Regions from separate parts of the Homo sapiens genome. Here region 1 is reported to be linked to region 2. The links are microRNA targets in miRTarBase. Many come from high-throughput screens and were not tested one by one. Region 2 holds a microRNA gene; the other region holds the end of a gene's coding sequence.

Evidence for each region. The annotated mature microRNA hsa-miR-4662a-5p reads UUAGCCAAUUGUCCAUCUUUAG and lies in region 2 at 1,198-1,219, shown strand. An mRNA with a match to its seed (bases 2 to 7 or 8) in the 3' UTR can be bound and repressed. Matches are read on the target gene's strand: a 7mer-m8 pairs with bases 2 to 8, a 7mer-A1 pairs with bases 2 to 7 and ends in A, and an 8mer does both.
Region 1: miRTarBase lists KLHDC10 as a target of hsa-miR-4662a-5p. Seed matches in the 3' UTR shown: 7mer-m8 at 1,600-1,606.

The regions. Positions count from the first base shown.
Region 1 is chr7:130,130,153-130,133,515 of GRCh38, forward strand. KLHDC10 (kelch domain containing 10) reads left to right here. Exons shown (of 10, transcript NM_014997.4): 10 at 385-3,363. The coding sequence ends at 594. Among named protein-coding and RNA genes, the nearest start is that of LINC03008, 9.9 kb to the right of the region's middle.
Region 2 is chr8:124,820,793-124,824,207 of GRCh38, forward strand. MIR4662A (microRNA 4662a) reads left to right here and starts at 1,193; the gene lies at 1,193-1,259. It overlaps MIR4662B (microRNA 4662b), which reads right to left and starts at 1,266; the gene lies at 1,186-1,266.

The sequences.
Region 1 (3,363 bases), not on the chromosome of region 2:
TAAAAATACAAAAAAAAATTAGCCGGACGTGGTGGCGCGTGCCTGTATTCCCAGCTACTCTGGAGGCTGAAGCAGGAGAATGGCGTGAACCCGGGAGGCGGAGAGCTTGCAGTGAGCTGAAATTGCGCCACTGCACTCCAGCCTGGGCGACAGAGTGAGACTCTGTCTCAAAAAAAAAAAAAATCATATATATATATATATAGTTTTTCCCTTAGTAATTCATTAATTATTTAAACCCTCTTGATCTCCACATGGTATTGGGATCAGTGAGGAATTCTTGTTTCATTTCATTTTGATTCCATCTACTATGCTTTTTCCCCACTGAGTCTTCAGCCTTGTATGTTTCTCTCCCGTTTGAATTTGTCCTCTTTTGACTACTCATAGGCTGGTTGCATGTACATTCATGGAGGAGTGGTGAACATCCATGAAAACAAACGGACTGGGTCATTGTTTAAGATCTGGCTGGTGGTACCTAGCCTGCTGGAACTGGCATGGGAGAAGCTGCTTGCGGCCTTCCCTAACCTTGCAAACCTCTCCCGAACACAACTTCTGCACCTTGGACTCACACAGGGACTCATCGAACGCTTGAAATGAGGATTTCTGGACTGTTCATTGATACTGGAAATGTTAATTTAAAGAGACTCCTTTATTTATGGGCAGTGTAGAATGTGCTACAAAGAGGATTGGTTACCCTGATCAAGGCCTTATTTAGAAAATACATCAGATGCCTTTCTGTAAATTGGTTTTTCAGTTTATGGACATCTCACTTTCCCACGTGCTTCCTTCTTTGCTTCTGTTCCTCCTGACCCATTACATGCACATGTACTCACATACTCCCTCTTCCTTCTCGATGGAGTTAAGGGAAAGCCTGAAAGTACCTTAATAATGTTATTAATCAAGACAGATTCCTTTTTAAAGGAATTCTGAATAGTTCCATGTCATACAATATTCTAGAAATTAAAACATCATCAACATAAAGAAAAATGAAATTAAAAAATTTTTACATCTAGCAACAGCAACAACCACAAATTTAGGGGAAGCTGAGAAGGCTAACCTTGGGAATCTTGCAGGTTATACTTAAACCTAGATGTTTAACTTAGTGTTTTCAAGATGTGTCTAACTGAGTAGTAGCTGGGTCTGATGGCAGCAGTGCTTGCCATCTTGTTGCACAGATAACTCAAACCTACCCTTTGGCTTTGAAGGAAGGTTAAGCAGCCCAGCAACTCTTGGTTAGTGATTTCTTTCTCATCCTCATGGTGCCAGCAGTGGTTAGAGTTGGTTTGTCAAAAGACTTACGTGTGTGTCGTGGTCGTGCTCTTTGTTGTTGCTCTTAGAAATTATGGCACCAAGAATGTTTCAAACGGAAAAACTTGTGGTGGCCAAAGTTCTTCATTCTGGCAGTTTTGAAACTCTCTTATGCTTATTAATGGTTTTAAATATCTCTTTGACTTCTTCATGGGGAATTGTAGACCCTAAGTATGTGGTGTAAATGCCATGTAACATGAACACAAGCTCCCGAGGGAGGCCAGAGAAGAGCCAGGCAGAGAAAACCTGCATCCTCTGGGCTTGTTAACTTGGCTTCCACTCGGGCTGTGGTCTTTGGCTATCATCTTGGCCATTTCCTTTTGAGAACTTGTTTCTTTTCTAATCTCTGGGCCAGGTACCTGCCATTTTCTCAGGCAGTTGGTCCTTGATTTTTCCCTTAGCTTGTTGCCTTCTTTTCCGTCTGCTTTAATGTGCATGGTGCTGTGAATAATTGTCTAGTAATTGGATACAAGGTCTTGGGGGTAAAGCCACAGGTCATCCTTCCTGAAGAACCAAGTATCATTTAAAAACTAGCATGAGGAAGGAATGAAACTGAGTAGCATTCATTTTGTGTGTGTGAAATTTTAGTTCTGGTTTGTTTGATTTGTTTTTTTTTTAATTCTAAAAAGAATGACATAAATTTTCACTCGCTTTGCCATCTGGCTGCTAGGGGAGCTGAGCAAGAGGCTCACCATGCGCATGTGTAAGCCGCAGGTGTACTCAAGGTGCTGAAGGCGTGCAAGGGGCAGCGCTGGTCCTCCCGGGGCCAACTCACAGCAGGAGACTCGCATGGGAGAGTTGGAACACATCTTTCCTTTAAGTGCCTCTTTTTTCACCTAGCTTTTAAAGTTATTCTTTGTCCTTCATCTCAGAAGGGATCTCTTTAGCTTATGTGTGGATTTAAAATGACCTTTGAGCTACGGTTAAAAAGCTACCATCTGGTGTTCAGTTCTGGGAAAGAGAAAACCGTAGCCTCCAGACATGCTCCTGATTTCTAGGCCTTATCATACCATCCCCTCTGTGATGGGTTGAGTTCATGGAGCCTGTATTCTGGGAAGTCTTATAATAACCACGCACCTGTGAACGTGGGTCCTTTCTGGGGAGTGAGGAATGTGGGAGAGAGGCAGAAAAAGGAGCAGCTCCTCTAGGGGCCCATCCTCCCACATCTTGCCATTACCAGTCTGTGTAGCACTTAACCTCCTGCCACCACTGCCAGGCTTGCTCCTCCGTTCTCTCCCAGAGCAAGTCAGTCTGAGCAGCTCCATTAGTCCAAAACAGAGCTTTGCTGCATGACTTCAGCCTGGCCTCTGGATATTTGGTGGAAATATATTCTAAATTGAACAAGCCAGGCTGTCCAGGGTGGCAAGAGGATTTTTGACCTGGATTTATACAGGGACCAAAGACTGAATGCTCAGCCTCTGTGCTTAGACTTTCATGGTCCTTAGGATAGAAGTGAGTCTCTAGCCCTGCTACACCAGAGAGCTGAAGAGAGATGTGGTCTGGTTCCATCCATACTTGCTGGCATCCTTTGTTAAGCCTTCTGAGGGCAGTCTTCTTTGAGGTAGACCTTGGAGGCCTGACATCGAAGACCTGTGTGTTTTATTTTCATAAAAGTATATATCCTTGGTCTAAAGTGTCTTCTTTTAATATAACACTAGTAAAAATGACATGGTATGACCAGCACTGAGTGCTATAGAACCACACATGTGTACATGTTCTGGATGCCAAATGAGACTGTGTGTAAATGACTAAGTGTAGATAACTAGAAATTAGATAGGGGTCATCAGGCGTTTCGGTATACCTATAACCAGCACTCGGAATTCCTGACACTGTTTACTTGATTTAGGAAAGTTTATGCCTGCTGCTTCTCTGCCTCTTTGAGGTACTCCCAGCCGTCTTACTACAGTCCTGTAAATTTAAGTGCAATATATAGAAACATATGGATATATACAGATTATATATAGGGTGTAACTATAAAGCAGGTAGACTACTTTTTTGCATCTTGGGGAAGTGAGCTCATTACTTTAGGTTCAAATTATGCCAAGAATTTTAGATGTG
Region 2 (3,415 bases):
AGTTGAGTATATTTTTGTGGGTCTATTTCTGAGTCCTCTATTCTGTTTCATTGATTTGTGGGTTTATCTCTCCACCAATATCATACTACCTTGGCAACTGTAGCTATATAGTGAGACTTAACACAAGGTAGAGTGCTTCCTCCTACTTTTTAAAATAGTTATCACAGCTATTTTATTTTCAAAATTTTTGCCTCCCATACAAATTTTAGAATAAGCTTGGCTTTGTCTACAAAATCTTTTTGGGATTTTGATAAGAATTGTGTTAAACTATTGATAATTTGGGAAGAATTGACATCTCCACTATGATGAGTCTTCCAGTCTATGAACATGGTATTTCTCCTCATTTATGTAGGTCTTTATTTTTTCATCAGCATTTTGTAATTTTCATCAGAGACATAGTATATGTATTTATACCTAAGTATTTTATTTTCTTTGAAGTGATTGTAAATGGTATTGTTTTTAATTTCAGTTTCCCCATGTTCATTGACAGGATAAACAAATGCATTTGATTTTTGAGTGTTGATCATGTATTCTGTGACCTTACTTAATTCACTTATTAATTCTAGGAGGTTTATTTTAGTTTATGTTTTTTAGATTCTTTAGGATTGTATAAATAGACAATCATGTTATCTGCAAATAGAGATGATTTTATTTCTTTCTTTTCAATCTGTATGTCTTGTATTTCTTTTTCTTGCTATATTGCACTGGCTAGAACTTCTACTACCCTGTTGAAGAAGATGTTGAAAGCAGACATCTTTGTCTTATTCCCAATCTCAGTGGGAAGACGTTCAGTTGGCACCATTAAGTATGATGTTAGATGTTTTTTTTTTTTTGTAAATGCTTTTTCACAAATTGAGATATTTTTCGTCTGTTCCTACTTCAGTGAGTTTTTTTGAAAAATAGGGATCATACTTTGCTTTCACAGGATTGCTGTGATGATTCTAGGTGAAACATAAGTAAAAGTTTATGGCTGTTGTGGGCCCTCAAATAAGGTTTAGAAAAACAACCTTTGGACAACATTAAGGCGAGTCATTACAACTTAAAGTGAAACCTTCTGTAGACAAATGATCTCACATCTTCACTTCTAGGTATCTCTTCTGAAGAAACATTGGCTCATGTCCCAGAGATTTATATACAAGGAAGTTTACTGCAACCATGGCTGCAACAGAAAAAGCCATTGTGTACCACAGTGTCTATTTAGCCAATTGTCCATCTTTAGCTATTCTGAATGCCTAAAGATAGACAATTGGCTAAATAGAAATTGTGGTACATCCATACAATGGAATACCATGAAGCCATCGACAAAACATCAAGATTCTATTGACCAACATGGAAAGAGTGCCATGGATGGGCACGGTGGCTCACACCTGTAATCCCAGCACTTTGGGAGGCCAAGATGGTTATATCACCTGAGGTCAGGAGTTTGAGACTAGCCTGGCCAACATGGCGAAACCCTGTCTCTACTAAAAATACAAAAATTAGGTGGGCATGGAGGCAGGCACCTGTAATCCCAGCTACTCAGGAGTCTGAGGCAGGAGAATCGCTTGAATCTGGGAGGTGGAGGTTGCAGTGAGCTGAGATTGTGCCATTGCACTCCAGCCTGGGCAACAAGAGCAAAATCTCAAAAAGAAAAAAAAAAGAGAGAGAAAAAGTGCCAAGACACAAGGTTAGGTGAACAAAGGAAGTCTCAAAACAGAACAATTTGATTTTATATTTATAAATGGCATAATATATAAATATGGCTTATAAATTTATACTTATATCTACATACATATAGTATATAAGTATGTATTTTTAAAACCCAGTCATATATTGTAAACACATTCCTAAGTGCATAGAAAAAGGCCTAGAAGGACTTGACACTCATTTGTTAACATCGGACATCCTTCGGGAAATGAATGGGATTGGGTAGAGTACAAAGGGGTACAAAAGATCACTTTAAAAAACTTTATAAATATATTTGGTCTTTAAAACATTTTTTTACAATGATAATGTTTATATTTACTATCTGTTTACCTAAATAAGACTCAGGTAGTATGGGGCAGGGAGTAGCAATTTCTAGTGGTAAAATTTCAGACAATTGTTTTCCATAGTCACTGGGACCCAGAATTCCTGAGCTCTCTTTGTTCTATTGCTGGCTGCAATATTAGTTGTATGATTTTGGACAAGTCACTTTCTCTCTCTGGGCCTCAGATTCCTCTTGTAATGAGGAGATTAAACTAGAGTACCCATGGATAAGCATTTTTATTATTCACATTTAAGCATCTGACCTCTCTTTGCAAATAGGTTTTTGTATGTGGAACCTTTATGTATACAACAGAAGAAAGCATGTCAACAACCCAACTATTTGTACCCCGGATCCATTTCAGCACTAACGTTTTCTGACTGGAGTTGAAGGCAGTGAACCCAAAGCCACCCGTCAGAACTATACTGCCCCTCAGCTGAGTGAAAAATAACTGGGTGATTTCAAGTGACCCACAGAAGCTCAGGAGTGACAGTTGCTCTCATAAAATGTGTTCCCTGAGCATTAAGCCCTGGTGTTGGCAGGGTCTGATAGCTCAGGGACTGTTTGAGCTCCAAGGAGATCATTACTGTTTCTAGAGAGTTCTATGAGGACCCTGGGTCTTTGGAAGAACTATCCATTTGTGGTTTTTAGGAGAATCAGGTCCTAGATCACTGAAGCCACAGCCCATGGCCCAGAGCTGTAGCTTTACTGCTTTGGGGCTGCAGCAGGGAGGCGAGGCCACCTGGGGAAGCTGAGGGCAAGAGTAGAGGTCAAGTGCAACACACAGCATGCTGTGAAATATGAGAAAGGCTCATAGTGTCTTTTCTTTGAAATGAAAAGCGCCATCTCGAGTTCTGTGGAATTGGGTCCAGCCTTCCTTGGCTATAACAGGCATGATAAGGATCATTTTGCCTCCTTTAGGAGCAGGGCTAGATGTCCTACAATTCTCTGCATTAGTTGAGCCCATGGACAGTAACAGCCATAGTCTGAGATATAAAAAAAAAAACAGCACATCGCCCAGAAAAAAGCCTGGGCCCTGTGCTTTTGGGATTCTATTCGCACGTGTTTCGGACTGGCAAGACTCAAACCCAGAAAGAGGGACTCCCTGAGAGGGGAAAGGCGGACGTGCAGGGCCACTCTGGCCTAAGTCTTCTCTGTGGATCGAAGCAGAAGGTAGGAAGCCGGTGTTTTATACCTCCCTGCCTTTCCCTGCCCATTTGTGGGATGGAGAGCTGGGGGCCTGGGTGAATGACCTGTTGTAGTTCAGGTCCACACTCCTACCAAGGCACACCAGCATGGAGGGCGGGAGACCTGGGCTCAAGCCCCAGTTGGGCCACTTTCTCATCGAGGCTAGTCACATGCCTTTGCAGGTTCTCAGTTTCATTGTTTTTAAAAAGACCATTAGATTAG